3 linked regions of the Homo sapiens genome follow. The protein of the gene in region 1 interacts with the protein of each later gene in a pairwise test. Each region holds a gene or a part of one and is shown in the gene's direction. Other genes may lie near its edges.

Region 1 (10,079 bases):
TTAAGAATGTAGGTGTTACCTTCCCACACAAATATGGTTGAAGTTAGCATACCAGAAACATTTGTAACTCATCAGTACAGTGTGTTATTTCTTGCCCAAGATTACTAGATCTGATTACTGGGGTGAAAAAAAGGGGAAAGTTTAGGAGTTTCCCTTATGTGAACTATTTCTTTTGTGAATTGATTGCAAGTTAGGCATGTAATTCAGATGGAGAATTAAAGTCTATGGTGCAGTAGAGAATTATAAGAAGAGCTATTAGGAGAAGCACAGTGTGTATATTTAAAGACCCATATCTTTTGTGTTATTGACAAGTAAAAATCTCTATATTTACTGTGTACAGCATGATGTTTCTAAATGTGTATACAATGTGGAATGGCTCAATCCAGTGAGGTAACGTGCATTATCTCACATACTTACCTTTGTTTTTTTTTTTTGTGGTGAGAACATTTAAAATCTACTCTGTTTGTTTGTTTGCTTTTGTTTTTGTTTTTTTTGAGATGGAGTCTCACTCTGTCGCCCAGGCTAGAGTGCAGTGGCACGATCTCAGCTCACTGCAACCTCCGCCTCCCGGGTTTCAAGTGATTCTCCTGCCTCAGCCTCCCAAGTAGCTAGGATTACAGGCGCCCACCACCATGTCCATCTAATTTTTGTATTTTTAGTAGAGACGGGGTTTCACCGTGTTAATCAGGCTGGTCTCGAACTCCTGACCTCAGGTGATCCACCTGCCTCAGCCTCCCAAAGTGCTGGGATTACAGGCATGAGCCACCACACCCAGCCTAAAATCTCCTCTCAACAATACAATGCAATACATTGTTGTTGACTAAGTCACCATGTTGTACAATAGATCTCTTGAACTTATTCTTCCTGTCTAACTGAAATTTTGTATCCTTTGACCAAGAAGACCCATGTCTTTAATGTGTTGACTTAGAAAAGACCACATATTGTTAGGAAAGAGGTTCTGTGTAGAAGTATTGACAATGGGAAAGGCAGAACCACTCTTCCATTCGCCTGAAGACACTGACCAGGCAACCAGGAATTGTAGATGTGGGTTTTCTAATGGCTCATTCAGCCCCCATCTGCCAGCTATGTGAAAGTTACTGTGCTTGGTGCCTTGGGGGTAGATGGGGATGGACTACCCTGCCCCCTAAAAGCTCCGGAGGCAGAGGCTGCAAGATGGTAAGGATAGAATGCAATCACAGATGAACCAGCTTTCCTGGGAGAGGGTGGGATAAGCTGATGTCTGGCAGGGAGAAGCAGTCAGGGAAGACATGGGGAGGAGGTGGCGGCATCATCAAGTGGAGCATTGGAAAGCATGAGTAGGACTTTCAGCAGGTGGAGAAAGGCCCCAGAACAGCCCGTGCCTTGGATGCTGCTGGCATTTTAATCATCTGAAGATCTCATCAGAAAGCAGATTCTGATTCTGTAGTTCAAGGGGAGGAAGCAGAGATTCTGCATTTCCCACAAGCTCTAAAGGACAAGTCTCTAGAGGACCACAGAGCTGCCTGCCTCTGCTTCCTTGACTTTTGAGGTGGAGGCCAGCCTGGAAGCAGCGGCATAGGCTTCAGATGCCACTGAACTGGGCGGAGCGGGAGCCTGAGACTGATCTGGCTTTAGGTGCTCGAAACCTTTCTTTGATCACAGGGCCATTAACTCCGCCTTTGGGCCTCCTCCTTCTCCTGAAATCCCCCTTTAAAAGTTCACTTGGTAATTTCTATCAATATCTATTTGATTTTATGATCTATGAACTCTTAGGACATATTGCCAGAATGGTACTTTGGTCCTTCAGAAAAAAATTTATTCTTTTTTTTTGAGATGGAATTTCGTTCTTGTTGCCCAGGCTAGAGTGCAATGGCGCGATCTCAGCTTACTGCAACCTCTACCTCCCAGGTTCATGCGATTCTCCTGCCTCAGCCTCCTGAGTAGCTGGGATTACAAGCATGCGCCACCACACCCGGCTGATTTTGTATTTTTAGTAGAGAGGGGGTTTCTCCATGTTGGTCAGGCTGGTCTTGAACTCCAGACCTCCGGTGATCTGCCAACCTTGGCCTCCCAAAGTACTGGGATTACAGGCATGAGCCCCCGTGCCCAGCCTAGAAATTTATTCTATTATTGGTAGATTTCTTAATGTTTTTTAATAAGCTGCCATCTTGTTGTGATCAAGTTCAAAAAATATATTTTTTAAAACCATATGAATTAATTAGGTGCGCCTCTTGTTCCCACCTAATTGGGGGAAAAGGAGATTATACCAATCATTGTTTTAAAGCCGTCAGGAGTCCCAGTTAACCTGTGTGACTTTAGCAGGAGCCACCAAGGTAACTGCAGATGGCACAAGTCAGACACCATCAGAATTCTGCTCTCCCAGTGTTTGGGATAATTGTGGTAGAGACCATGAATTAGAAACACACATAGGCAACACCCACTTACTTATTGGTGGCAGGAGAAGACCTAGAAACATTGTAGAGATGTTTCTGCTTCCTCCCAAGGGCCAGCAGTTTACACCCGGGGGCCACATCACACCAGATTGATTTCAGTGTATGTGGTGGGGCCTTCACTGTTTACATTAGTAATTTGATCCTTCCATTAAGACCCCTGCACCTATTCTTTAGGTAAGAATTGAAGCAGGTCTGATTTCCGACAGTTACACTGCTGTCCCAGAGGAAAACTCAGTGGCAGTATGTTGTTGTTCAGTGTTATATAAGCATGGCAGGTACGTATGTCCGCAGATGTATACTAAACATATACGTACATATATGTTTCCAATTTTCTTCCTAGATCTTGGCCCTGATTGCATTCATCTGCATAGAGACCATCATGGCATGCTCCCCGTGTGAAGGCCTCTACTTTTTTGAGTTTGTGAGCTGCAGTGCGTTTGTGGTGACTGGCGTCTTGCTGATTATGTTCAGTCTCAACCTGCACATGAGGATCCCCCAGATCAACTGGAATCTGACAGTGAGTACAAGCGGCCACTCTGGCCATGAAAGGATCACGTGCCTGTTGGCTCCAAGGAAAAGCTGGAATCTCTCCAGGTCATGTTTGGTTCTAGTTCATTTTGATCCTTAAATATTCTATTATAATTCAACTGTGAAATTTTAAATTTCTTTACTGGGTTAAGTAAAACTACAAAATAAACTGAATCTTAACTAATGGGAGAAACATCATAACAATTATTTTGGCCACCTTAAAGATGTCATTTCAATTTTGCAATCATCTGAGAAGACTGGTCATGTTGATATTTGGAGAATATGGGAAATAAAATACAGTGTAGACATTTACATACTTTTCAGACTGGACCTAAAAGCCATTTATAAAAATATTGATTCTGGAAGAATTGAAAATATGAATGAAAATGCCAGTAACTTACAGAGCCTAGGAATATTATTAAATTCAAAGCAACTAGGAGGACCTGGGGGGGTTTGGTGGTTTGATCAGAAAGTCTTGAGTGGAAACCTGCCCCTTCTCCCCATGGTTTGGGTTCTTAGCTCTGTTTGGCCACCCTTGTTAATCAGATGGGAAGCACAGGGCTGGTCAGTCCTAGACCCCCTTTCCTAGACTGTGTCCTTACTGTGCTGAATGAGAAGAGGATTTTAATATCATTTGGTTTTCTTGATATTTATTTACAAATTAGCATGTGCAAGAGCTCAAAGGGAGTCAGTCAGGGAGATCCACGTAAGCACAGTCGGCTGCCTCACACTGCTGTGCCTGTGGGATGAGAACGCCGTGGGCACCTCAGCTGCTGAGGGGGAAGCAGGAGGAGAGCGCCTCAGACCAGCTACCCTTGCCTGAGATTGGGAGCCACACAGAAGCCACACGTGGCTCTGTCTGTGTTTGGCTGCTGCTGGGCCCATGAGAAAGTGTGGGCCCCAAGGAGGAGGCTGGAGCTGCCACCTCCCTGTCAGGGCTGCTCTCCTGGTGTGCCCTGGGTGGGGAAGGTCCTCCTTACAGGTGCTCTCTGGGTTGTCCTAACCAGCACAGACTCCTAAAGGAGGAAAAAAGGAGAGTTGCTGATCTAGAAAAGTAGATATCAGTTGAAAACTTAGCTGTTTTTTGTCTTAGCACTGGAAGCTGAGAAAAATGTGGTGGTATTTTAAATTTAAGCTCTAAAACCTCAAGATAACTAGAAGCATTTTGTCTGAGTTTTTGTGACAGGTTGTAATGTCTCAACTATTTTTAAAATGAGGTTTATGTTATCCATAAGAAAATGCTTACAGAGCATGTAGTAGACTGTTTAAGAGAACTTTGCAAACCTCCCCCAGTTAAAATGCTCATACTATGGATGCAGGGTCAAGGTCAAGGTCAGCATCTTGTTCATTGCTATCCTACTTGCCTAGTGTTCCTGAGGCCTGTCAATAAATACTTGTTGAGTAAGGGGCTGGGCTGTGAAACCCTGCGGGAGGACCTGTTTGACAAAGAAGCAGCTGCTGGAAAGGTTAAGACTATAGGCATTGAGTCAGACAGACCGAGCTGGGTTCAAGTCCAAGGTAGCTGCTGAAACAGGCTGTGCATGACCCTGGGCTAGTCACTGAGAGCCCTACATTGGTGAAGTGTCAGCACTGGTAAAGTGGAGATAATAATTTTTTTTTTTGCAGGGTTTTTTTTTAAGTATAAAATGAGGTAATGGGTGTAAAGGCATCTGGTAAGGCCTCAAACCAGTGGGCGCTGTGGCCAGTGCAGCAATGTTCATCTCACCTGAGTAAGAGGTGTCCTGGCACGCTGCTGTTATGTTACCCACACTGTTCCCCTGTTTACTTCCACCAGGTTTGACTTGACCCCCTTAATTCTGTTTTGTCCATTTATCTGACAGCCATTAACCTGTTAAAAGACTTCATGCTTCAGATTTCTTACTAATTTATACCAGCGTTTATCCCCAGAAATACCTACTTTTTGTTGTTTTTGGGTTTTTTTTTTTGTTTTTTTGAGACAGAGTCTTGCTCTGTTGCCCAGGCTGGAGTGCAGTGGCGTGATCTCGGCTCAATGAAACCTCCGCCTCCCGGGTTCAAGCGATTCTCCTGCCTCACCCTCCCTAGTAGCTGAGATTATGGGCATGTACCACCATGCCCAGCTAATTTTTGTATTTTTAGTAGAGATGGGGTTTCACCATCTTGGCCAGGCTGGTTTCAAACACCTGACCTCAGGTGATCCACCCACCTCAGCCTCCCAAAGTGCTGGGATTACAGGTGTGAGCCACCACACCCAGCCCAGAAATACCTATTTAGTGAGCTTTCTGGAATTCTGCTTTTTCTATTTTAATCATGAAAGATTTTCCACTTGTTGACTACCACACTACCATGTCACCGGTCATGTTGAGGTGCATCTCTCCCCAGGGAAGTTGATACTCGTTCTTTTCCTCTGGGTGGTGGTGGCCTGGGCCTGTGGTTGGGTGTTGGTGATGTGGTCACTTGAGAACACGATCCTGTTCTTTGGGATCCGTTCTAGACTTTCCACTCTTTTGGAGCAGATAAAGGCTGTGTGTTTGCCCAACAAAAGGGCATATACCTTACATGAACTTGAGGAGATGGTACCTTTTTTTTTTTTTTTTGAGATGGGGTCTTGCTCTGTCGCCCAGGCTGGAGTGCAGTGGTGCGATCTCGGCTCACTGCAACCTTTGCCTCCCGGGTTCAAGTGATTTTCCTGTCTCAGCCTCCTGAGTAGCTGGGATTACAGGCATGTGCCACCGTGCCCAGCTAATTTTTGTATTTTTAATAGAGACGAGGTTTCGCCACGTTGGCCAGACTGTTCTCCAACTCCTGATCTTAGGTGATCTGCCCACCTCAGCCTCCCAAAGTGCTGAGGTTACAGGCGTGAGCCACTGCACCCTGCCAAGATGGTATCTATTAAAGGCAGCTCATGTCCAGTGTTCTCTGAGAGGGGTGAAAAAGTGAGCTCCTCACGGCCGATCTCAGCTCATCAACTCGCTACAGAAGGGTTGGCCTTGGCTGTGTTGTGTTTCTGTAACAAGGTGGTGGGAGTATTGGGAGTATTTTTGTCTCCAGCAGAGCCAGCCTGATGGTTAAAATAGGGTGTGATTGGTATAGATTTAAAAACACAGGTCATTCCAGGAGCCCAGGTTGACATAAATATGGATGAGAAATGATAAATAAGGAGGACAGTGCATAATTTTCTACAAGCATAATTTGATGGAATTTGAATGATTCTGTTAATGTCAAGTTTTTGGTTTGGGTTTATTTTTGGATGGATTGTGGGACTTTGATATATATATATATTTATATATATATATTTATATATATATATATTTATATATATATATTTTGAAACGGAGTTTCGCTCTTGTTGCCCAGGCTGGAATGCAGTGGCACAATCTTGGCTCAACGCAACCTCCACCTCCCAGGTTCAAACGATTCTCCTGCCTCAGCCTCCCGAGTAGCTGGGATTACAGGCATGTGCCACCACACCCGGCTAATTTTTTTGTATTTTTAGTAGAGAGGGGGTTTCTCCATGTTGGTCAGACTGGTCTTGGACTCCCAACCTCAGGTGACCTGCCCGCCTCAGCCTCCCAAAGTGCTGGGATTACAGGCGTGACCCACCGTGCCTGGCGATATTTGTTTTTCTCTGTGTCCTAGGAGCTCATACACTCACATGTTCCACCCCTGTTTACTTTGATTAGTGCCACGGGGCTCCTCCTTTCCTCCCCTTCCCTTCTGGGATGTGGCGCTATCTAAAAGGCGTGTCTGATCCTCCCCCATCCCAAAAGCCTGCCAGTGGCTCCCACTCAACTGGCCCCAGAGCCCAGGGCCAGCTCAGCCCCACTTCCCAGAAGAGGAGGTCTGCACTTGCCTTCTCTACTTCCCCCTCTCCTAATCTCACTTTTCTAATCTCTTATTGTCAAATTCTGAAAAAATTATGAAAGTAAATATGGAGTTTAATATACAGCCACCACCTGGGTCAATAAATAGGAGATTGTCAACACCCCAAAAGCTTCCCATGTGTATTTTCCAGCTAAACACACCCCCTGCCCCTTCCCCCAGTCCACCATCCTGACTATGTGGTGGTCTTCCGCAATTCATCTTCAGCCCACTCCAGTCTGGCAGCATTGAAAGTCCCCTGGTCAGGAGCCTGGGACGGGGCCTCCGTGTTCCTAGATCCTCTGGTTGCTCTTGGGTTCTCACCCCACTCAACATCCTGGTGGTGTCTGCTATGGGGCACTCTGTCCTTCCTGCCATACTCTCTCACCTTGCATCCTGGGCCCCCACACTGTCCTGTTTTTCTTCTTCCGCTTTGGTCACCCTTTCTTAGTGGGCTCTGTGGCCCTGGAGGCCTCTTAGGCCTCTATCTCAGAACCCAGGCTGGGTGCTGTGGTGGGTTGAGAACAGTTGGCAGTTACCCACAGGGGCCACTGGCTGAGCCCTGAGCCCTAGGGCGTGACTCGTCTTGTGTTTTTTTATTTTATTTTATTTTATTTTATTTTTTTATTGATCATTCTTGGGTGTTTCTCGCAGAGGGGGATTTGGCAGGGTCATAGGACAATAGTGGAGGGAAGGTCAGCAGATACACAAGTGAACAAAGGTCTCTGGTTTTCCTACGCAGAGGACCCTGTGGCCTTCCGCAGTGTTTGTGTCCCTGGGTACTTGAGATTAGGGAGTGGTGATGACTCTTAAGGAGCATGTTGCCTTCAAGCATCTGTTTAACAAAGCACATCTTGCACCGCCCTTAATCCATTTAACCCTGAGTGGACACAGCACATGTTTCAGAGAGCACAGGGTTGGGGGTAAGGTCATAGATCAACAGGATCCCAAGGCAGAAGAATTTTTCTTAGTACAGAACAAAATGAAAAGTCTCCCAAGTCTACTTCTTTCTACACAGACACAGCAACCATCCGATTTCTCAGTCTTTTCCCCACCTTTCCCCCTTTTCTATTCCACAACACTGCCATTGTCATCATGGCCCGTTCTCAATGAGCTGTTGGGTACACCTCCCTGACGGGGTGGTGGCCGGGCAGAGGGGCTCCTCACTTCCCAGTAGGGGCGGCCGGGCAGAGGCGCCCCTCACCTCCCGGACGGGGCGGCTGGCCGGGCGGGGGCTGACCCCCCACCTCCCTCCCGGACCGGGCGGCTGGCCGGGCGGGGGGCTGACCCCCCACCTCCCTCCTGGACGGGGCGGCTGGCCGGGCGGGGGGCTGACCCCCCACCTCCCTCCCGGACAGGGCGGCTGGCCGGGCGGGGGCTGACCCCCACCTCCCTCCCGGACGGGGTGGCTGCCGGGCAGAGACGCTCCTCACTTCCCAGATGGGGTGGCTGCTGGGTGGAGGGGCTCCTCACTTCTCAGATGGGGTGGCCGCCGGGCGGAGGGGCTCCTCACTTCTCAGATGGGGCGGCCGCCGGGCGGAGGGTCTCCTCACTTCTCAGACGGGGCAGCTGGGCAGAGACGCTCCTCACCTCCCAGATGGGGTCGCGGCCAGGCAGAGGCGCTCCTCACATCCCAGACGGGGCGGCGGGGCAGAGGCGCTCCCCACATCTCAGACGATGGGCGGCCGGGCAGAGACGCTCCTCACTTCCTAGATGGGATGGCGGCCGGGCAGAGATGCTCCTCACTTTCCAGACTGGGCAGCCAGGCAGAGGGGCTCCTCACATCCCAGACGATGGGCGGCCGGGCAGAGGCTGCAATCTCAGCACTTTGGGAGGCCAAGGCTGGCGGCTGGGAGGTGGAGGTTGTAGCGAGCCGAGATCACGCCACTGCACTCCAGCCTGGGCACCATTGAGCACTGAGTGAACGAGACTCCGTCTGCAATCCCGGCACCTCGGGAGGCCGAGGCTGGCGGATCACTCGCGGTTAGGAGCTGGAGACCAGCCCGGCCAACACAGCAAAACCCCGTCTCCACCAAAAAATACGAAAACCAGTCAGGCGTGGCGGCGCGCGCCTGCAATCCCAGGCACTCGGCAGGCTGAGGCAGGAGAATCAGGCAGGGAGGTTGCATTGAGCCCAGATGGCAGCAGTACAGTCCAGCTTCGGCTCGGCATCAGAGGGAGACCGTGGAAAGAGAGGGAGAGGGAGACTGTGGGGAGAGGGAGAGGGAGGGGGGAGGGGGAGGGTGAGGGGGAGGGGGAGAGGGAGAGGGAAAGTCTTGTGTTTTTTTTTTTCTGACACCAAATACATTTTCCACACCAAGCTGTTCTGTAATCCTTTGACACTGACTGGGTGTTTAACAATTCCGTTCAATTCTGACACTAACTCTCGGAGTTAGCACAGATCCCACAGACGAGGGCCCAGTCCCACAAGATGGCCCCACTTTAGACACCAGCTGCAAAAGGGGTGCCCAGGCACTTCTGTCTGGCTGAGTACAGATTCGATGGTTTCCACCACCCCTCAGGTTCAGTCATTTTCTGCAGTGACTCACAGGACTCAGGAAGGGGCTTTACTTAAACAATTACTGATATGTTTTAAACGATACAACTCAGGAACAGCCACATGGGAGAGATGCATAGGGTGAGGTCTGGAGGGCCTCAGATGCAGGAGCCTCTGTCCTTATGGAGTCAGAATGAGCTCCACTCAGAAGCTCCCCAGACCCCATCGTTCAGGTATTTTTTCTGGAGATTTCACTAGGTAGGCATGACTGATTGGCCATTTGGTGATTGAACTCAATGTCCAGCTCCTCTAACTTCCCTGGAGGTCCAGGGGATGGGGCTGAAAATTCCAACTCTCTAATCACCTGGCTGGTTTTTCTGGTGACCTGCCCCTATCCTGAAACTGTCTACCACCCTCTTCCCACAAAAGTCACTTCGTTAGCATAAACTCGGGTATGATTGAAAGGGACTCATTATGAATAACAAAAGATGCTCATATCACTCAAGAGATTCAAGGATTTGATTAAATATTTTTCATTATAGCACACTCATTCTTTCTGGGACCCAGTTTCCTCATCCATGAAAGTAGAGCAAAATAACAAGTCCTGTCTTGTGGGCATTTTGGATCATAATTAGGTTAGAATTCACTGGGAGCGATATGATTGGCACAGTGACTCCATAGATGGTAGCTGCTACTGTCATCAACATTATAATTGTCCCTTTGATCCTGGGGCCATTCAAGCACAAGTGAGTGCAAAGGATGGGTCGAGTGCTTGCAAACGT
Region 2 (9,652 bases), on another chromosome or scaffold:
GCGGGGAAGGCAGGGGGCGGCCAGACAGGGGGCGGGGGCGCGCCGCGCGCTCTCGGGCGCCCTCTGCTCGGCCTCGCCTGCCTCGGCCCCCTCCCCCGCCCGGGGTCGCCGCACAAAGGCGGCTGCGAGGGCGTCCCGGGCCGGGCTTCGGCGGCCCCCCTTGGGGGCGGGCAGGAATCCCAGGGCGTTGCGGGGGTCCCGGCTGCGGGTGTGGGGGCCGCCACCGCCCCCTCCCGCCTGCGTCCGCGCCGGCTTCCGCATCTGCTCGGCGGCCTCCTCTGCGTCTGGCTGTCTCCCCCCACTTGCGTCTCTCTCCCCCCCTTTGTTCTCGCCTCCGAGCGCTCCCCGCAGCCTCCCCTCCCCCCTGGTATTTAAATCGCCTGCAGGCCCGGAGCCCTCCCCCCGCGGGCCTCCGGGGACACGCAGTGTCCATCCCAGTGGAGGGGCCCATCGGGGGAGGGGCGGAGGGGGAGGGTCTCCTTTGTCTGCGCGGCGGCGGCCGCCTGCGCCGGGGAGGGAGGAGGAGGGGGAGCCCGGCCCGGCGCAACCCCCAGGGCCTCTCCTCGGGCCGAAACCCGTGGTTCCTACAAAGAGGAGCCAGGACTAGAATTAGGGAATTGGGGGCAGGGGCTGCCCTGGGGTCGTGGGGGAAGGTGGCATAGAGCACACTGGGGCCCAGAGGAGGAGAAAGTGCCTGGTTGGGGTGCAGAGGGGGTGCCAGAGTCCAGGGCGGGGGTTCCACTGGAGGGAAGGGGTCCGAATCGCCAGGATGGGGCTCCCAGCACCAGACGGAGACCTCTCTGCACGCGCTTAGGGCCCTGGATCTGGAAGCCGGGAAGGGGTGGGGGTGGGAACTTATCCGTCTCTCCCCACACAAGCACAGCCCTCCCCCGCGGCCTCTGCTTCCGCGTCCCTGTGTCGTCTCCGCGGAGTCTCATGCTCTTCCTTCCTCCCCCCAGCCGGCTCAGTTCGGGGAAGCTGCAGGAGTTCGGCGTGGGTGATGGCAGCAAGCTGACCTTGGTACCCACCGTGGAAGCGGGCCTCATGGTAAATGGCCATGGGGCTGCGTGCCCCCAGAGGCCCCCGCACACAGGCAGTAGCCCCTCCCTCGGTACCTGTCCGCACACACACTACCTGGGGCCCCCACCCCGCCAGCCAGCAGGGCCCTCTCCACCCCCTATTCCAGCCCAGGATTCCGACCCCACACTCAGGCCCCTCTCCTCCCTCTCTTTGTAGTCTCAGGCCTCAAGGCCGGAACAGTCCGTGATGCAAGCTCTCGAGAGTCTCACGGAGACGCAGGTAAGACCTCGCCAGCCCCTTCCTAACAGGGCAGCCCTGGGAGCAGGGTGCCTTGGCCACCGACGGGGCCTGGGGGTTGTCTGTGCTCCCAGGAGGCTGGGGGAGGGGAGGGGACGCGCCACCCCGCCTGGGTGCCAGCCTGGCCTGGCCTCCCCACCTCCTCTCCCCCAAGATTCACCACCTGACCCGGAGGGCTTTCTCTCCCACGGTGGCTGCCCTGGGGGAAGGGGGCCTGGCTTTCACAAGACTGCCTGCAGGATGACCTTGGCCTATGGGGCCTCATCCCCGCTCACACCCTGGCCTGCATCCCCAGCCCCCTCCGCCCCCACCGAGGAGCCCCCCTCCAGCCGCTGTGGCTTCCCCAGAGCGAGTTTCTCCTTTTTTACATTTCTGCTGAGGGCTGGGGGTGGCGGCTTGGGTGACACTCCTTCCGCCTTCCGTGACCCCCATCGTGAGAGGGTGGGGATCTCGTCACCCTCCCCTCCTCTCTCTGGCCTTTGTTCTCTACCCCGAAAGGGGAGGGGGCGGGGGTGCCCAGCCCTGGGGCCAGTGAGGCCTAGACAGGATGTTAGGAAAATATTTAGTAAGCGGCCAGGAGGGAGGCTGGGGCTGGCCCTCACCCGGTTCCCGGTTTTGCTGCGGACTTTTTTTTTTTTTTCTCCTTCTTTCCTCATTTTCTTGGCTGCGGCCAAGCCTTCCTCAGACAAGGGCCCTGGCCACCTCCCAGGAGGGTGACACAGGCCTCAGCAATCCGCCCGCTGCCAGGGTGGGGGACGCAGGCTGCCACCCGCCCCAGCAAGGGGTGGCCGGCTTCCCGGGCCTCCCTGGCCCCGAGGCCCGCACCCCCTTCCGCTTTCCCAGCGGCATGTAGAGTCCTGCCCTTTCCCTACATCGCGGGGGCAGGGCGGGGGCCGGGAGCTGGGTGGTCTGCCATGGGGGTGGCCACAGCAGCAGCAGCAGTGGCGTGGGGGCAGAGCCGGGGTCCCGAGCCAGGGCGGGGGCTGCAGGTGATTTCCTGGGGCGAGTGTGAGCAGAGCTCCCCGCCGCTGGGGGGCTGCGGTTGGCAGGGGGCCCAGGGCGTGTTGGCTTCACACCCTCCTCCCTGGGCGCCTGCGTCAGGAAGGAGCTGGGTTGGGGGGGGCTGGAGGGGGTGCTGGGCGGAGACACTGGGCTCCCCAGGGTTGCTTCCCTGCCTGGCACCGAGTCATGCCCGCCCATTAGCCTTCCCCAGGGAGGAAGTTGCAGGGCGGGTGGTGGTGGGGACTCCAGCTGCTCTCGGGAAGCCACCCCGGGCCCTTCCTGCAAAGGCTGTCTTGGGGCAGGGGGGTAGGGGGCCGGGCAGGCTGGGCCGCAGGGTGGGGGCTTCACCCTGCCCTCCTCCCTGCCTCCCTCCCCATGGGCCCCAAGCAGAGAAGGTTACGCCAGCTACTGCCAGTGGAGAGGAGAGCCGGGAGGGAGAGCTGGGAGGCGGTCGGTTCTGAGTCATCCCAGCCTATGTCACTTCTCAGAAACCTCCGCCACCCCCCCCCCCATCCCGGCCACTGGGGAGAGCAGGGCTCTGGCCCATACCCAGAGCAGGGGGCTTGGCGAGGACAGGGTGAGATTCAACCCACACCCACCCTGAACGGGGGCAGATTGAGGGTTTCTGTGCTTGGAGCAGGTTGTGCCCTCCGGGACTCCAGCCCCAGGGCGGTCAGGGCCCCTTCCTGCAGCCTTGCCACAGCCCCCTAGGCCTCCGCCCCGCCCAGGACAGATAAATATTTATCTTGAGAAAGCAAAGGTTAGGACAGAAGAATTCGTGCAGGAATTCCACCCACTTGCTGGCCCTGGTGACTTAGCTGGGAGGGGGCCTGAGGTGGAGCCCCTCCCGTATCCACAGGCAGAGAGGATCTAGGGGCCCATGAGGGTGGGGGAAAGGCAAAGTGAAGGTTGTTTGAGGTCAGTGACTGCCAGCTGGGCCCCGCCCCCTCTGGCCTCAGTTTCCCCTTGCAAGACCGACCTAGTTGGCCAGGGAGGGGCAGGCCCCCGTCTGACCCGCCTCTGTCCCCACAGCCCCCAGCGGCGCCCGGGCCGGGCCGGGCTGGCGGAGGAGGCTTCCGGAAATACAGATTCATTTTATTTAAGCGTCCGTGGCACCGACAGGGACCCCAGAGCCCAGAGAGGGGCGGCGAGAGGCCCCAGGTCACAGCGCGGGGGGACTGGGCCGGGCTGGGCTGGGGGCGCCGCAAGCTGGGGCTCCCAGCTGACGGACCGCTCTCCTTGCAGGTCAGTGACTTCCTGTCGGGCCGTTCGCCACTGACACTGGCCTTGCGTGTGGGCGACCACATGATGTTCGTGCAGCTGCAGCTCGCGGCCCAGCACGCTCCACTGCAACACCGCCATGTGCTGGCCGCTGCGGCCGCCGCCGCTGCTGCGCGGGGGGACCCCAGCATAGCCTCCCCCGTGTCCTCGCCCTGCCGGCCGGTGTCCAGTGCCGCCCGAGTCCCCCCGGTGCCCACCAGCCCGTCCCCTGCATCTCCCTCGCCCATCACAGCCGGCTCCTTCCGGTCCCACGCAGCCTCCACCACCTGCCCGGAGGTGAGCCTGGGGAAGGGAAGGGTGACCCTTGGTTGGAATCCAAAGGGTGGGCCGTCCTGGGGAGGTCTTGGGGAGGACAAGGACTCTTAGTCCCAGGTGAGTCCCTTGTATTAAGGGCTATCCTGTGACCTCGGGCTGGTGGGTGATCCCCCAGCCTAGATTGGTGGGGTATTTCTAGATCCTGAGTTGACGGTCATCGCCTGACATGACCTGGACCAGTAGATGATCTCTTGATCTTTGACTCATGGGTCATCTCTGTGTCCTGGGTTGGTTGTGACCTCGTGACCTTGGGCTAGTTTATCTCTAAACCCTGTGTTGACAGGTCATCTCCTGACCTGGGCTGGTGGGTGATCTCTGGTCCCTGGGTTGCTGGTGATCCCCTGATCCTGGACCCCGTGCTCATGTGCCCCTTCCTCCCATCAGCAGATGGACTGCTCCCCCACGGCCAGCAGCAGTGCCAGTCCTGGTGCCAGCACCACGTCTACCCCAGGGGCCAGCCCTGCCCCCCGCTCCCGAAAACCCGGCGCCGTCATCGAGAGCTTTGTGAATCACGCCCCGGGGGTCTTCTCAGGGACCTTCTCTGGTAGGTGTCACAGCACATGTGTGAGCTCACGTGTGTCCCGTGACCCTGTGCATTTGGGGTCTACATCCACCCACAGGCGACTCCACATATTCTGGGCATACACAGGCTGTGTCCGTCTGCTCACTTCACATGTCCCCCAGGAATCCCCCACACACACGCCTGGCCCTGCCCGGGGGGCCGCGGGTCACCAGGCGCCTGCATACTGGGGACGTGTCCCGCTCCCGCCCCGTGGTCCCTCGTGCACATCAGCCCACATGTCCACGCCATTGCCTGAGCTCATGAGCTCACACCCGTGGACGCCCGTCCTGGACATGCGGGACTGTGCCCGTGCCGGGCACTCACGGCCACCTCTGCCCGCAGGCACGCTACACCCCAACTGCCAAGACAGCAGCGGGCGGCCGCGGCGTGACATCGGCACCATCCTGCAGATCCTGAACGACCTCCTGAGCGCCACCCGGCACTACCAGGGCATGCCCCCTTCGCTGGCCCAGCTCCGCTGCCACGCCCAGTGCTCCCCGGCCTCACCGGCCCCCGACCTGGCCCCCAGAACTACCTCCTGCGAGAAGCTCACGGCTGCCCCCTCAGCCTCCCTGCTGCAGGGCCAGAGCCAGATCCGCATGTGCAAGCCCCCGGGTGAGTGGCCACCCTCGGGGGTCCTACCTTCCCCGCCCGCCTGGGCTTCTCAAGGCCCCTCTGTGTGAGCTGGTGGGCTCAGGAGCAGCTGACCTGCCCAGGGGCTGGGGGGGATGGCAGCTGCCGTGGCCACTGCTCTGCTCCAGCCCGGAGAGAAGGCAGCATGTGTGTCAGGGCACAAAGTGTCCTTGTGTGCTCCCGGGGGGCCACAGGCCCACTTCCTCCTGCCCCACCCCCACCCGGGGCATCATCTCCAGATGGCATTTGGTGCCTCTGTGAATGGCCAAGTCAGGCCTGGCAGGCCGAGGCGGGGCCAGAGCCCACCCCTAAGCATTTCAGTGACTTGGAAAAGCAGCGAACACAACCCCCCTGCCAGCCTGGCCCCAGCTACTCCCAAACGGCGGGTTACTCCCTCCAGAGTCTCACCAGAAGATGGCTACTGTACTGCCCTTGGGCTCTGCACCCGTCGCGGGGGCTCCTCCCAGCTCAGTTTAAAAGTGGGAAACTGGCCGGGCGCGGTGGCTCACGCCTGTAATCCCAGCACTTTGGGAGGCCGACGCGGGCGGATCACGAGGTCAGGAGATCGAGACCATCTTGGCTAACATGGTGAAACTCCGTTTCCACTAAAAATACAAAAAATTAGCCAGGCGTGGTGGTGGGCGCCTGTAGTCCCAGCTACTCGGGAGGCTGAGACAGGAGAATGGCGTGAACCCAGAGGCGGAGCTTGCAGTGAGCCGAGATCGCGCCACTGCACTCCAGCCTGGGCGACAGAGCGAGACTCCGTCTCAAAAAAAAAAAAAAAAAACCAAGGTACAACCCCCAAGTATCTCCCCTCGGATCACAGAAGCGGCCAAGCCCCCTCCATGTAGGACTCCAGGAAGAATGAGGCAGGACAGTCCTGACCTCCCCAGCTCATGGCTGAGCTGGAGAATTAGAAGCCAGCTGCGTAGCTGGGACTCCAGGCAAACACCACCATGCCCAGCTAATTTTGTAATTTTTGTAGAGGAGGGGTCTCGCTCTGTGGCTCAGGCCTGTCTCGAACTCCTGAGGTTGCCCAGGCCTGTCTCGAACTCCTGAGCTCAAGCGATTCTCCTGCCTCGGCCTCCCAAAGTGCTGAGATTACAGGCGTGAACCACTGTGCCCGGCATGGTGGATGTCCTTGACTGTTTCCTTTGCTGACCTCCCTCCAGGGAGGGCAGGACTGTGTCTGACCTCAGGGGCATTTGCTGGGGTCTGGGGTGGTCCTCTGTGTTCAGCAGGTGGAGGCTTTGGGAGTCACAGGCCACTACCTCCTTTGCAGGGGACCGGCTTCGGCAGACAGAAAACCGCGCCACGCGCTGCAAGGTGGAACGGCTGCAGCTGCTTCTGCAGCAGAAACGGCTCCGTAGAAAGGCCCGGCGGGACGCGCGGGGTCCGTACCACTGGTCACCCAGCCGCAAGGCCGGCCGCAGCGACAGCAGTAGCAGCGGGGGCGGCGGCAGCCCCAGCGAGGCCTCCGGCTTGGGCCTCGACTTCGAGGACTCCGTGTGGAAGCCAGAAGTCAACCCTGACATCAAGTCAGAGTTCGTGGTGGCTTAGGATCTTCGGATCGGCCACCCTCGCCCCTCGCACCCCAGCCCAGGGCGGCGGGGACTCCGAGAGCCCCGGAGAGAACGTGGCCCAGCCCTGGAGGGCAGGCGGCCACTCCCCCAGCCAGAAGTCTTTTTTTCTTTTCTTCTTTTTTATTATTTTTTTCTTTTTTTAAAAAGTTCTGACCGTGGTTTCCTGGACTCTTCATGGGCTTTGCTTCCTACCTCCTTCACCCTTCACTCCTGCCCTCCTCTTCCTCCTCCTCCTCCTCCTCCGTCTGTCTCCTTTCACCTCTGCGCCAGGTCGGTCCTCCCTGCCAACCTTCCCCAGCTCCAATATGTAGCAGTCTCTCTGGATGGCGGAGAGTGAAGGAGACGGAGAAACGCGCCCCATCCCTTCCGCCGCCTCCTTTCCCCCCCGACCCTATTCAGGTTTTAAGTCAAAAATGTCGATATGTCATTATGCACTTTACAGATGAGGGGAGGGGCCGCAGTGCGCAGAACCCACCCCACCCCCCAGTGCAGACTTCGGGGTCTCCACCCCAGGCCAGCAGCGCCCACTGGGCTACAGCAAGCCAACAGGTCACAGAAGCCAACGAGGGGACTGTTTCTCTTCCACTCCTATCCTCTTTTCTTGATCTTTTTTTTGCATTTTCCTTCATTTCTTTAACAAGGAGAGCAAAGCTGTTTTAGCAGAGGCTGGGGCTGAGGTCCCCATGGGGTTTGGGTGCAGGGGCATGGCACCCTTTCCTGTCGGGAAGGGAGAGGGGAACTACCCCCCCAGCCTGCCCTCCGCCCCGCCCCAGCCGGCGGACTGTGCTGTTTCCTCCGCCCCCACTCCCGTGTTTTCTGACCTCCTGCCTGAGTTTGGGGTATTTATAGACTATTAATTTTCTGACTGAGCCAATAGTGGTTGGGGAACTCTTGAAAAAGGGGAGAGAATGGCTGGGTGCTGGGGAGTTCCCCCCTCCGAGCCCTCCTTCCCGGCCCAACCTGAGGGATGTGGATTTGGGACTGTCTGGGGGCCCCTCCTGCAGCGAGGATGGGAGGGGGTGCTGAGCTGTGAATCCCCTGGGCAGGGGGCGACAACTCCGTGTAGCATTAACCCCCGTGGCGGGGTCCGCTGCTGGTCTAATTTGGACCCCCTGCCTCTCAGTGCCCCTGCCCTAGGGGTGTCTGTCTCCAGAGGGGAGGGACAAATCCCCTACTGGGGCCATTTCAATGGGGTAGTTTTTGGATTTTTTTCCCCACTCACTTTTTATTTTTTAATGATAATGGAGATGTCTGGACCCTTCCTCACCCCACCTGTCGGTCTTGTCCTGGCTCTGCCTGTCCCCCACCGTTGTTCTCGTAGGTGAACCCCAGGTCCTCAACTCCCCCCCTTTATGTGTTGAAAGTTAATGGTTTCAGATGTGAACATCACGTGTTATAACTGTAGCGCTGTAAATTTTTTTGTGGGAGGGTGGGCAGGGAGGGGTCCCAGAGGGTAGAGCTCAAGGATTTTGGGTTTTGTTTTGTTTTCATTTTTCCAAAAAAAAAAGAAAAAAAAATAGAAAAAAAAGGAGTAAAAGGGGCGGGTTTGTTTTTTGAAGAACTGTCTTGGATACCTATTTAAATGTGTGTTCTGTTTTGTTTTTTAACGATTTTTAAATAACGTCTGTGCCTCCACTGGTTGAGGGTGGAACCTCCAGGCAGGAACCGGCTCGCCACCCTCTGCCCGGTAAGGGCTGCCCAAGAAAGCATTACCCGCCCTCGGGGGGTCGGGCTGTGGGGGTCCCGGCACCTGGCGTGAGTTTCATGTATGAAAACATAAAATTGAAAAAAAAAAAAAAACCTACACGAGCACCGTGATTTCAAGTAATAAACAGAAAATGAAACACACATTGACTCCCGCCTGCTCGCCTAGTGGGGGGATCTGGCCTTGGTTGGGAGGGTTCCTGGGGTGGGATGTCAGCTCAGGGAGTCAGAGGGACTGACCTGGGTCCCAAGGCCCCGAAGAGGGGGTGGGGCAGGGGTCAGGGCCCTGAGAATTTCCCACGCTCCTTCCCCGGCTGCCGGGTGGGCAGGAAGCAGCCAGGGTGGGAGGGAGGAGCCCAGCCACTTCCTGGTACCCAAGGCCGGAAGTCCCTTAGGGTGTGGGGCGAGGGCCTGCCTGCCTGCTTCGTGGCCTGGGCAGGACCCTGGCCCCCTCAGGACCTGCCAGTATGGGGGAGACGCGACCACCAGCTCTCCCCAGCCACAGGAGTCGGGGACTCCCACTCTGCCACACCCACCTGCTCCCCTTCCTGGAGTCTCACATCTGTGTGGCTTGCTGCAGGGAGATCACCAGGCCGACTGGGAGGACCTAGGACTCCGCAGGGTACCTTGGGCTGGCAGGTGATACAGGCCTGGCTTGACCCAGCCCTGGGGGGCCTCTCTGGCCACACCTCCTGACATTCCAGCCCTTCCCAGACCTGGCCTTCAGCTCCAAACCTCCCGGCCTTTGCCCCCTGTCTAGGAACACCCCTGGTCCGGCTGTCCCTTGCTGTCTGGGAACTTCCCCAGCCTGCGCCTTCCACCCCTGTCCACCCCGTCCCGCAGACCCCACCCTTCCCTCTCTCTGTCCCTAGCCTGGAGCTCCCCGTGAGCCTCACCAGGACTGAGTCCTCTCTGGGGTCCCACCTCCACCCATGTCCGGGCTGGGCAGAGATGAGGCAATAACACTATTTCATGTCTTTTTTTAAATTTTGTAACCTGTATTTCCTCAGGTAACAAGAGTTGCCTATGAGAAGTAATTGGGCTCCCATTTTATAGATGGGAGAACAGAGGCCCAAAGAGGAACATCACTTGGCCCAGAGGATTTGGGGTGTTTGTTCAATGATGTGACCTCCACCCCTTATCCCATCTCTAGGGGCCCCAGTACCGGGAGCCCCCAGGGGAAGGGGCACAGGTTCAGAGAGTGGCCTGGGAGCACCTTCCTGAGACCCCTCTGCCCCTCCCAACGCCCAGTCAA
Region 3 (10,790 bases), on another chromosome or scaffold:
CTTTATTATTTTCCTTTCGTAATTTCTGTTTTGTAATCCTTTTCTGCTATATGATAAAGTAGTGCCATGCCTGAACACATTTTTTCATTGGGTTGTTCCAGTTTCTCTTATTGATATGGAAACGCTTTGTTATATATTAGAGATGGTTACTGTTAATTTATTGGGGATGCTTCATTTTCCCCAAAATTTGCCTTTTTTTTTTTTTTTTGAGATGGAGTCTCACTCTGTTGCCGAGGATGGAGTGCAGTGGTGCGATCTCGGCTCACTGCAAGCTCCACCTCCCAGGTTCATGCCATTCTCCTGCCAGGTTCATACCATTCTCCTGCCTCAGCCTCCCGAGCAGCTGGGACTACAGGCGCCCACCACCACACCCGGCTAATTTTTTGTACTTTTAGTAGAGACGGGGTTTCACCGTGGTAGCCAGGATGGTCTCGATCTGCTGACCTCGTGATCTGCCCGCCTTGGCCTCCCAAAGTACTGAGATTACAGGCATGAGCCACTGTGCCTGGCCTAATATTTGCCTTTTTAAACAGTTTTTTATGGTGTCTTTTGACTTAGATGATACTTTAATTTTTACGTCTTTAAATATGTCAGATTCATTATTTATAGCCTTGGTGTAATATCAGGAAGTGCCTATGCCAACTCAAGATGTCTTACACTGTAATATTTTCCTAAAATTTCATCTAGTTCTTTATGACTTCACGTTTTCACATTTAAGTCTCTGAATTTTTAGAATTTATTATTTTATGTGGTTGAAAGTAAGGATTTAATGTTTATTTTTCCAAATGGATAGACACTTGTCAACAATCCTTTATTACACAACCCATCTTTTGCCCACTGTTTGGAAATGCATGCTTAAGTTTGTATATAAATTAGTTTGTTTCTTGACTTATTATTTTGTTTCACTAATTAATCTATTTCTAAGTGTATTCATTTTTGATTGCTGCTGTAACAAATTGTCAATAGCTAAGACAACACTGGGCCCGGTGGCTCACACCTGTATTCCCAGCACTTTGGGAGGCTGAGACGGGCAGATCGCTTGAGGTCAGGAGTTTGAAACCAGCCTGGCCAACATGGCGAAACCCTGTCTCTACTAAAAATACAAAAATTAGCCGGTGTAGTGGCGTGCACCTGATATCCCAGCTACTCGGGAAGCTGAGACAGGAGAACCGCTTGAACACGGTAGACAGAGATTGCAGTGAGCCGAGGTCACCCCACTGCCCTCCAGCTTGGACGACAAAAGTGAGACTCCATCTCAAAAAATATTTATATAGCTAAGACAATTTTTGAAAAAGAAGAATAAGGTGGGAGGAATTGCTCTACCATATTTCAATACTTCTTATATAGCTACAGGAATCAAGACTATATATTATTGGGAGAAAAATAGACACATAGATCACTGTAACAAAATAGAAATCCTAGAAATAGCCCCACACTGATTTTTTACCAAGAGACAAAAATAGGGAAAGATCATCTGCTTAACAAATGATGCTGGGGCAGTTGCAGAGCCATAGGCCAAAAAGAAAAAAAAAAAACCAAAAAGGCCTAATCTTCACACCTTTATACAAAAAAGTAAGTCAAGTGGATCATAGATTTAAATCTAAAATATAAAACTATAAAAGGCCGGGCACGGTGGCTCACGTCTGTAATCCCAGCACTTTGGGAGGCCGAGGTGGGCAGATCACGAGGTCAGGAGATCGAGACCATCCTGGCTAACACAGTGAAACCCTGTCTCTACTAAAAATACAAACAAGTTAGCCAGGTGTGGTGGCAGGCGCCTGTAGTCCCAGCTACTCGGGAGGCTGAGGCAGGAGAATGGTGTGAACCCGGGAGGTGGAGCTTGCAGTGAGCCGAGATCGTGCACTCCATCCTGGGCAACAGAGCAAGAATGCATCTCAAAAAACAAACAAACAAACAAAAAAACTAAAAAAAAAGTTTTACAAGAAAATATAGGAGAAGCGTCTGAGATCTAGGGCATAGTGAATGGTTCAAAAAGCATAATACATAAGGAAAAAATAAATTAGATTTCATCCAATTTAAAACTTTTGCTCTGCAAGAAATCTTGTTAGAAGGATGAAAAAATATGGTATGATCTGAAAGAAAATGTTTGCAAACCACATATCCAAGAAAGGACTCACATCCAGAATATGTAATGGATATGTATAGTACTCTCAAAACTCAACAGTAGGCTGAGCGTGGTGGCTCACATTTGTAATCCCAGCACTTTGAAAGGTCGAGGTGGACGGAGGGCAGATGCCTTGAGGCCAGGAGTTCAAGACCAGCCTGGGCAACATGGCAAAAAACCCATCTCTACTAAAAATACAAAAATTAGACAAGCATGATGATGCGTGCCTGTAATCCCAGCTACTCTGGAGGCTGAGGCATGAGAATCACTTGAACCTGGGAGGCGGAGGTTGGAGTGAGCCAAGATCGTGCCACTGCACTCCAGCCTGGGTAACAGAGCAAGACTCTGTCTCAAGAAAAAAAAATAATAAAAACCTCAATGGTAAAAAATACAAACAAATAATCCAGTTAGAAAATCATGAAAAGATATGAACATACATTTCACTGAAGAGGAAATAAGCAAATAAGCACATGAAAAGATGTTCAACACTCATTTGCTTCACTAGATGCAGAATAACACCACGATGAGGTATCACTACACACTTATTACAATAGCTAAAATAAAAGACATAGTGACAACACCAAATGGTGACAAGGATGCAGAGAAACTGGACACCTTATTAAGTGCTGCTGGGAAGGTAAAATCTTACAGCCACTCTGGAAAGCAGTTTGGTAGTTTCTTATAAAACTAAACATGCAATGACCATACAATTCAACAATTACACTTCAGAGAAATTAAAATGTATGCCCATCCAGAAACTTGTACATAATTGTTCATAGCAGCTTTACTTGTAATAGCCAATAGGTGGAAATAATCAATATGTCCTAAAATAAGTGAATGGTCAAACTGTGCTACATCCATCCCCTGGAATACTACTCAGCAATAAAAATGAACTATTGTCAGGGCACAGTGGCTCACCCTGTTATCACAGCACTTTGGGAGGTCGAGGCAGGCGGATGATGATGTCAGGAGTTCAAGACCAGACTTGCCAGTATGTTGAAACCCCATCTTTACTACTGATACAAAAATTACCCGGGTGTGGTGGCGCGCACCTGTAGTCAGAGCTACTCGGGAGGCTGAGACTGGAAAATTGCTTGAACCCAGGAGGCAGAGGTTGCAGTGAGCCGAGACACTGCACTCTAGCCTGGGTGACAGAGTGAGACTCTGTCTCAACAACAACAACAATGAACTATTGATACACAAATATCAATATCTTGGAGAAATCTCCATGGAATTATGCTGAGTGAAATAAGCCCATAAAACATGATATACTATAAGATTTCACTTGTACAGCATTGTAGAAAAGACAAAATTGTGGAAACGAAAAACAGATTTGTGGTTGCCAGGGATTAGGGATGGCGGATGGGAGGAGAGTATTACTAAAAATGAGTAGCACAAGGGATAGCATTGCGGTGATGAAAATGTACTGTACATTTTTTTTTTCAAGAGGGATTCTCACTCTGTCTCCTAGGCTGTAGTGCAGTGGCACGCTCTCGAGCTCACTGCAACCTCTGCCTCCTGGGTTTGAGCTATTCTCCTGTCTCAGCCTCCCATGTAGCTGGGACTACAGGCGGGTGCCACCATGCCTGGTTAATTTTTGTACTTTTAGTAGAGACGGGGTTTCTCCATGTTGGCCAGGCTGGTCTCAAACTCCTGACCTCAAGTGATCTGCCCACCTCGGCCTCCCAAAATGCTGGGATTACAAGCGTGAACCACTGCACCCGGCCATGTTCTGTCTGTTTTTTTTTCTGAAATACAAGCTTTGTTTAAAATGTAAAGAAATATTAAAAGTAAACTTTTTTTTACAAATTATAATCAAGCACTCAAAACAATTTAGGAATGTTAAACACTAATTCTTAATTCAAAATAATGACATCCATAGACTATATCCTGGTGTTGGTCAATATAAAGTTTACTTAATATTAGTATTTTATAGGCCGGGCACAGTGGCTCACGCCTGTAATCCCAACACTTTGGGAGGATGAGGCGGGCGGATCACGAGGTCAGGAGATCGAGACCATCCTGGCTAACACGATGAAACCCTGTCTCTACTAAAAATACAAAAAATTAGCCAGGCGTTTTGGTGAGCACCTGTAGTCCCAGCCACTCGGAAGGCTGAGGCAGGAGAATGGCGTGAACCCAGGAGGTGGAGCTTGCAGTGAGCGGAGATCGAGCCACTGCACTCCAGCCTGGGTGACAGGGTGAGACTCCGTCTCAAAACAAAAACAAAAACAAAAACAAAACAAAAAAACTAGTATTTTTTATATGCTTAACCATTGATCGTTCCTAAAATTCAATGAAAACAATGATTTGACTTTATAAGGTGAAGCCTTTTATGTAATACGCTAGAGATATCTTTTTCAAATACAAAACCTTTATACCAGCAAGGAAATTATAAAAGCATATATAAAGTATACTGAAGGATGTGATTTAAAGGCTGTCTGTATATACAGATGCATTTCACCTTATAAAGTACACGTGCACATCAAAACACTTTCACTGAATATAGATGCCATTACATTCTCTTAACACTACAAAGCAAATGTCAGGTTCATAAACATTGTCCTATTATGTATCAACTGAAAAAACATATATACACAAAAAGATTTTGAAGACACATGGGAGTGGAATGTGCCTACATTTAGAGCAGAGCTTTTACAGGACCACCTGTCTCCAGCCGGCTCCCAGGAACCACTGAAAACAGCTGCTACCCTCAGAACGGCAAGATGGTCTTGTTAATGATTTCACTGGACTCTCGAATCTCATCCTCCTTGATCACCAGCAGAGGCGAAACCTGATGATGTCACCATGGGTGGGCTTGGCCAGAAGTCCATAATCTCGAAGTCATAGACACACCTCCCAAGCATTACAGTCTATGGTTTCTTTAATAACAATAGCATTTAATAATTATTTTCCTCCCGGGCACAGTGGCTCACGCCTGTAATCCCAACACTTTGGGAGGCTGAGGCGGGTGGATCGCCTGAAGTCAGGAGTTCGAGACCAGCCTGGCCAACGTGGCGAAACCCCGTCTCTACTAAAAATACAAAAATTAGCTGGGCATAGTGGTGCATGCCTGTAATCCCAGCTACTCAGGAGGCTGAGGTAGGAGAATCGCTTGAACCCAGGAGGCAGAGGTTGCAGTGAGCCAAGATTGCACCATTGCACTCCATCCTGGGCAACCAGAGTGAACCTCTGACTCAAATAATAATAATAATAATAATTCTGTTCCTTTTATGGCAGTTACAACATCAGAAGGTAGCTTCATGGGTTCACTTCTCACGATAATACCCATTTTTTTTCTGCATTTTCAGCAAGATTTTCTTGTTCTAAAACCTCAAGGGCTGCGATGGTCACTCAGCAGCCTAGTGGATTGCCACCGTATGTGGACCCATGTTCCCCTGGCTTAATGCTCAGCATTAAGCCATCATCCCACAGCACTGCAGACACAGAGTATCAACCTCCAGAAAGGGCCTTTCCAAGGAGGACTATATCAGGTCTGACATTTTCATGATCAACAGCCAGCCATCTACCAGTTCTGGCCAATCCTATCTGTATTTCATCAGCAATGAACAGAACCAAGCTGGGAGCACGAGATGGGACAAGGGTAAGTTAAAATACCACAAAGCTCCCTGTTCTTACGGAGATTCCGCTGATCTCTCTCTTGCTCTTTCTTTCTTTTTTTTTTTTTTTTCAGTCTTGCTCTGTCGCTCAAGCTGGAGTGCAGTGGTGTGATCTCAGCTCAATGCAACCTCGGCTTCCCAGGTTCAAATCATTGAGTGAGCCCAGGAGGTCAAGACCAACCTGGGAAACATAGCAAAAGGCAGGGTAGTGCATGCCTGTAGTCCCAAGGCCGAGGCGGGAGAATCACTTGAGTCCCGGAGGTAGAGACCAGCCTGGACAACATAGCGAAACTGTCTCTAGTAGAAAAATTAAAAATATTAGTGGGGGCGGGGTGGTGTGAACCTGTAGTCCCGAGGCCAAGGCAGGACGATTGCTTGAGCCTAGGAGGTTGAGGCCAGCCTGGCCAACATAGTGAAACCCCATTTCTACTAACAACAAGAACAACAAAAAAATAGCGTGGGTGGGGTGGCTCACTCCTGTAGTTTTGAGGCCAAGGTGGGAGGATTGCTTGAGCCCAGGAGGTTGATACCAGCCTGGCCAACAAAGCGATAGCCTGCCTCTCCTAAAATAAATAAATAAATAAATAAATAAATAAATGAAAATAAAAATGAGCAGGGCAGAATGGCACACGCCTATAGTCCTGAGGCCAAGATGAAAGCATCATCTGAGCCTAAGAGATTGAGGCCAGCCTGGGCAACATATCGAAACCTGGTTTCTACTAAAACGAAACAAAACAAAACAAAAAATAGCTTGGGCAGGGTGGTGCGTGGCTGCGGTCCTGAGGCAGGAGGATCCCTTGAGCCCAGGAGCTTGATGCCGGCCTGGCCAACATAGGGAAACATGGTTTCTACTAAAAAAAAAAAAAAAAAAAAAAAAAAAATCGTAGGCAGGGTAGTGCATGCCTGTAGTCTCGAGGCCATGGTGGAAGAATGCCTTGAGCCCAGGACGATGAGACCAACCTGGCCAATGAGACCAGCCTGGCCAACATAGCAAAACCTGGTTTCTACTTAAAAAAAAAAAAAAAAAAAAAAGCGTAGGCAGGGTGGTGAATGCCTGTAGTCCCGAGGCCGAGGTGGGAGGATCGCTTGAGCCCAGGACGTCAAGACCAGCCTGGCCAACACAGCAAAACCTTCTCTATTAAAAAATCAAAAAATAAAAAATATTAGTGGGGGTGGGGTGGTTTGCGCCTGTAGTCCCGAGACAGAGGCGGGAGGATTGGCCAAGGCAGATGTAACCAATACCACAATCACATCCCATAAGTAAATACATTTTCCTCTCTCCAGGGCTACAGGTAAAGGATGGTAATTCTGCACACCACACTTAGATTCCCTTTCAAAAATGTAAGCAGAGGTTGGAGGGCCTTGGACTGTTTTTTCAGTGGCAACAGATATAGAAGCCACTGAAGAATGAACTCCACGACTAATTATAGCAAACCTCCGCAAATGTGCTAGTTTGGAAAACATTGTGGCTTTCAAGTAGAAAAATCACAGATTGACTATTTTTTTCTTCCCACAGTTCAGACTAGAATCCAGATTTTTAACCCAAGATCCAGGAACAGTCTTCAGAGAGATCAAAATCTGACGGCGCCTGAGGACCACCCACTTTTTCGCAGTGGCGACAAGGTGTGGCTGGAGGAGGAGACATTATTCTGCAATGTCGCTGCCCAAGGATGATGGACCAATCAGGGCAGTTAGTGAACTCCATCTGGCCAATTAGAAGTCAGAACAGTAGGCGGAACAAGCGAAGCGGATGTGGCTTCTATCAGTCCCGGCTCCAGGGACACAACCTTCTCAAAGTGGGGGTGGAGACTCTAATTTTCCCGCCTAAAGCATCCCCTGGGATTCGCTACTTTAAGTTCAGAGTACGCATGCTCTGATTTTCTCTCTCTTTCGATTCTTCCATACTCAAGAGTACGCACGGTCTGATTTTCTCTTTGGATTCTTCCAAAATCAGAGTAAGAATACACTGATTTTCTTTTTCCATTCTTCCTACCCCTCCCCTCCTCCGTGGTGCATTTGCTATCTAGTTTTAATAAGGAGTGTATATGAGGCAGGCCGCCATCTTAAATCTTTCCTGTCAGTTTCTAACCGCCATCTCAAATCTTTCCTGTCAGTTTCTAACTTTTTCAGGTATGGGATTTTTCCTAGGAACTCTGTAGTAACTTAAGAAATTTGGGCCTGGGGTGGTGGCTTACACTTGTAATCCCTGCACTTTTGGAAGCCACAGCTGGTGGATTGCCTGAACCCAAGAGGCGGAGGTTGCAGTGAGCCATGATCACGCCAGTGCACTCCCGACTGGGCAACAGAGCGAGACCCTGTCTGAAAAAAAAAATCACTCAAATCTTTCCTGCTGGGCTCAAGTGATCTTCTCACCTAGGCCTTGGGACTACAGGCGCGCACCACCCCGCTTCTGCTAAATTTTGTTTGTTTGTTTTTTTTAGTAGAGATGGTTTTGCTACGTTTGTGAGCCTGGTCTCAAGCTCCTGGGCTAAGGCGATCCGCCCACCTTGGCCTTCCAAAGTGCTGGGATGGTACAGGCCTGCTCCACCAACCCCAGCTAACTTTTTGTTTATTTTGTAGACGGGGGTTTTGCTGTGTTTCCCAGCCGGGTCTCGACCTCCTGGGCTCAAGTGACCTGCACGCCTCGGCCTCCCAAAGTGCTGGGATTACAGGCCTGAGCCACTGCGCCTGGCTGATTGCTGCAACTTGAAATGCCCCACATTCTCTCTAAGTGATGGCGGGCTCTTGTAGTCTCAGAAATTCTAGCTCTCTTCGTTCTAATAACTTACAAATCACCCAGTAATAGCCTCTGAACACATTCATATTAGCGATGCTCATTTCTCTTCAGCAGAACAGAACCCCCCATCCCTCTGCCTGATCAGATCCATCACCAAAGAGACCACGTTATCTCTGGGACTAACTTCCCTTCCTTTATTTATTGAGCGGGGGTGTCAGCATGCCCCACTGAATAAAATTACACAGTCATGTCCCTGCCTCCCCAACAAGGGTCCATACATCTTTCAGGGGAAGCCTAGCTCCAGGGAAATTACTAACAACATTAGCCAACCCCCTCCCAAAGACTCAAGGCTGCTTTGCCCATAGGAAACCTGTCATCCCCTATCAATACTTCTCCCAGAGACCCCTGGTTCCTGGTTTTCGTCTGATTTCTCCCCATATCCTTACTCAGGGACAGATAAGCCCCGGATGGAGAAATGCAGCACCTGATTCCAGGTGACTGAGTGGCCGGCCTTCACTGATTTCTCCCTCCACAAGACCAAAGGTCCTGCGGCTGGAAAGTCTCAATCTGTTTCTCTTGCAGGTCAGACTACTCCCTGTGCCATGAACGGAGATGACACCTTTGCAAGGAGACCCACGGTTGGTGCTCAAATACCAGAGAAGATACAAAAGGTGAGGTGACCTAGAGGGAGCAGAGTAGTGACCCAGGGGACAGTGTGGGGTGACCCGGTTTCTGAGGAGGGGAGGACAGAGATACTGGAGACAAGGAGCAGGGTCTCAGGGGAGATCTGGACCCTTGGGAGCCTCCCACCCTCACTCTGTCATCACCTAGCATCCCTGGAGACAAGTCTGTGACCTTGCACTACATTTGGTGACTCTCAGTCCATTCTGGAAGGTGGGAGGAGAGCCAGCCAGCAGCATTAAAGCCCGACAGTGTGGCAGGGGTGAAGCTAGGAAGGTCCCTCATGTTCTGTCAGTTAGCCGTGGCATCAACCAGGAAGGATTATCCCCACTTCCCAGATCCAGCACACAGGAAGCGACTCCAGCTGAATGGCAGACATGCCTAGCTGAGTCCCTGCCATAATTCCTTTTTTTTTTTTTTGTAGGCCTTCGATGATATTGCCAAATACTTCTCTAAGGAAGAGTGGGAAAAGATGAAAGTCTCGGAGAAAATCGTCTATGTGTATATGAAGAGAAAGTATGAGGCCATGACTAAACTAGGTAACAGAAAGTTCTAGGTACAGACAAGTCTGGGGACACATGAGCATCCCTTTTCCTGCTTTGGCTATTTCTTAGGCTGCAGAAAGTACCTCACATTTTCCTTTTGTGTAGGGAAAAATCGCAAGGCAGCTTCTGGGTGTTCTGCTCTTCTATATCCTGTCAGGGCTGAGGGCAGTGACTGGCCACAGTGGAGCTCATACCTGGATCCTGCACGTTTCTCTCTCTTAGGCTTCTGTTCTGATGAGCCCAACTGTCTCTGTGGCATCCCGGCAACCATCCTACCCCCACCCCACACACACCCACTCTACCTTCTCTCGGCTTGTCTCTTTCTTTTTTTTTTTTTTTTGTTTGAGTCAGTCTGAATCTGTCACCTAGGCTAGAGTGCAGTAGTGCAATCATAGCTTACTGCAGCCTTGAATTCCTGGCCTCAAGCAATCCTCCAGCCTTAGCCTCCCAAAGTGTTGGTACTACAGACATGAGCCACCGTACCAGGCCCAAGCTTGTCTCTTAAGGAATAAACATTTTGCTTCTTTCTAGGTTTCAAGGCCATCCTCCCATCTTTCATGCGTAATAAACGGGTCACAGACTTCCAGGGGAATGATTTTGATAATGACCCTAACCGTGGGAATCAGGGTGAGTAGATGGGAAGGGGCTGGAAAGGGTCTCCTCAAGCCCAATTGCTTTTCAGCTCAGCTACCTGGGAAAGAGCCTCAGGCATTTGTTCCCTCATACACATCGGGGCAGAGTGAAAAAAAAAATTGCATGCAGAAAGTTAACTACAGAGGTCATTCATATAAAATTTTAAAACATGCAAAAGAAGAATATATATTTTTATGGATAATAAGTAAATGGTAAATGTATACAAACATGAATGTGAATAAAAAGCCATCAAACTAAGGTGACTGGCTGTAAGTGGAGGAGGGAGGGAGGGCAGGGATTGCTGAGTGCTGCACAGACAGCTTCAGCTGTGACTTGTTGATAGTGTGTTTTGTTTGTTTTTGTTTTTGAGATGGAGTTTCACTCTTCTCGGCCAGGGTGGAGTGCAATAAGGCAATCTCAGCTCACTCCAACTTTCACCTCCTGGGTTC

Evidence for each region.
Region 2: the proteins of CMTM4 (region 1) and MIDN interact in binary tests that used the Homo sapiens proteins (3 or more experiments, as listed by UniProt).
Region 3: the proteins of CMTM4 (region 1) and SSX3 interact in binary tests that used the Homo sapiens proteins (3 or more experiments, as listed by UniProt).

The regions. Positions count from the first base shown.
Region 1 is NC_000016.10:66,629,275-66,639,353, reverse strand, and holds part of CMTM4 (CKLF-like MARVEL transmembrane domain-containing protein 4), read left to right. Parts: intron 1-2,772; coding exon 2,773-2,949; intron 2,950-10,079. UniProt on the Homo sapiens protein: Acts as a backup for CMTM6 to regulate plasma membrane expression of PD-L1/CD274, an immune inhibitory ligand critical for immune tolerance to self and antitumor immunity. May protect PD-L1/CD274 from being polyubiquitinated and targeted for degradation.
Region 2 is NC_000019.10:1,250,603-1,260,254, forward strand, and holds the end of MIDN (midnolin), read left to right. Parts: intron 1-959; coding exon 960-1,047; intron 1,048-1,236; coding exon 1,237-1,299; intron 1,300-3,351; coding exon 3,352-3,480; intron 3,481-3,564; coding exon 3,565-3,876; intron 3,877-4,299; coding exon 4,300-4,459; intron 4,460-4,819; coding exon 4,820-5,092; intron 5,093-6,392; coding exon 6,393-6,670; 3' UTR 6,671-8,541; downstream 8,542-9,652. UniProt on the Homo sapiens protein: Facilitates the ubiquitin-independent proteasomal degradation of stimulus-induced transcription factors such as FOSB, EGR1, NR4A1, and IRF4 to the proteasome for degradation. Promotes also the degradation of other substrates such as CBX4.
Region 3 is NC_000023.11:48,353,544-48,364,333, reverse strand, and holds the start of SSX3 (protein SSX3), read left to right. Parts: upstream 1-7,630; 5' UTR 7,631-7,700; intron 7,701-9,064; 5' UTR 9,065-9,084; coding exon 9,085-9,153; intron 9,154-9,587; coding exon 9,588-9,702; intron 9,703-10,239; coding exon 10,240-10,335; intron 10,336-10,790. UniProt on the Homo sapiens protein: Could act as a modulator of transcription.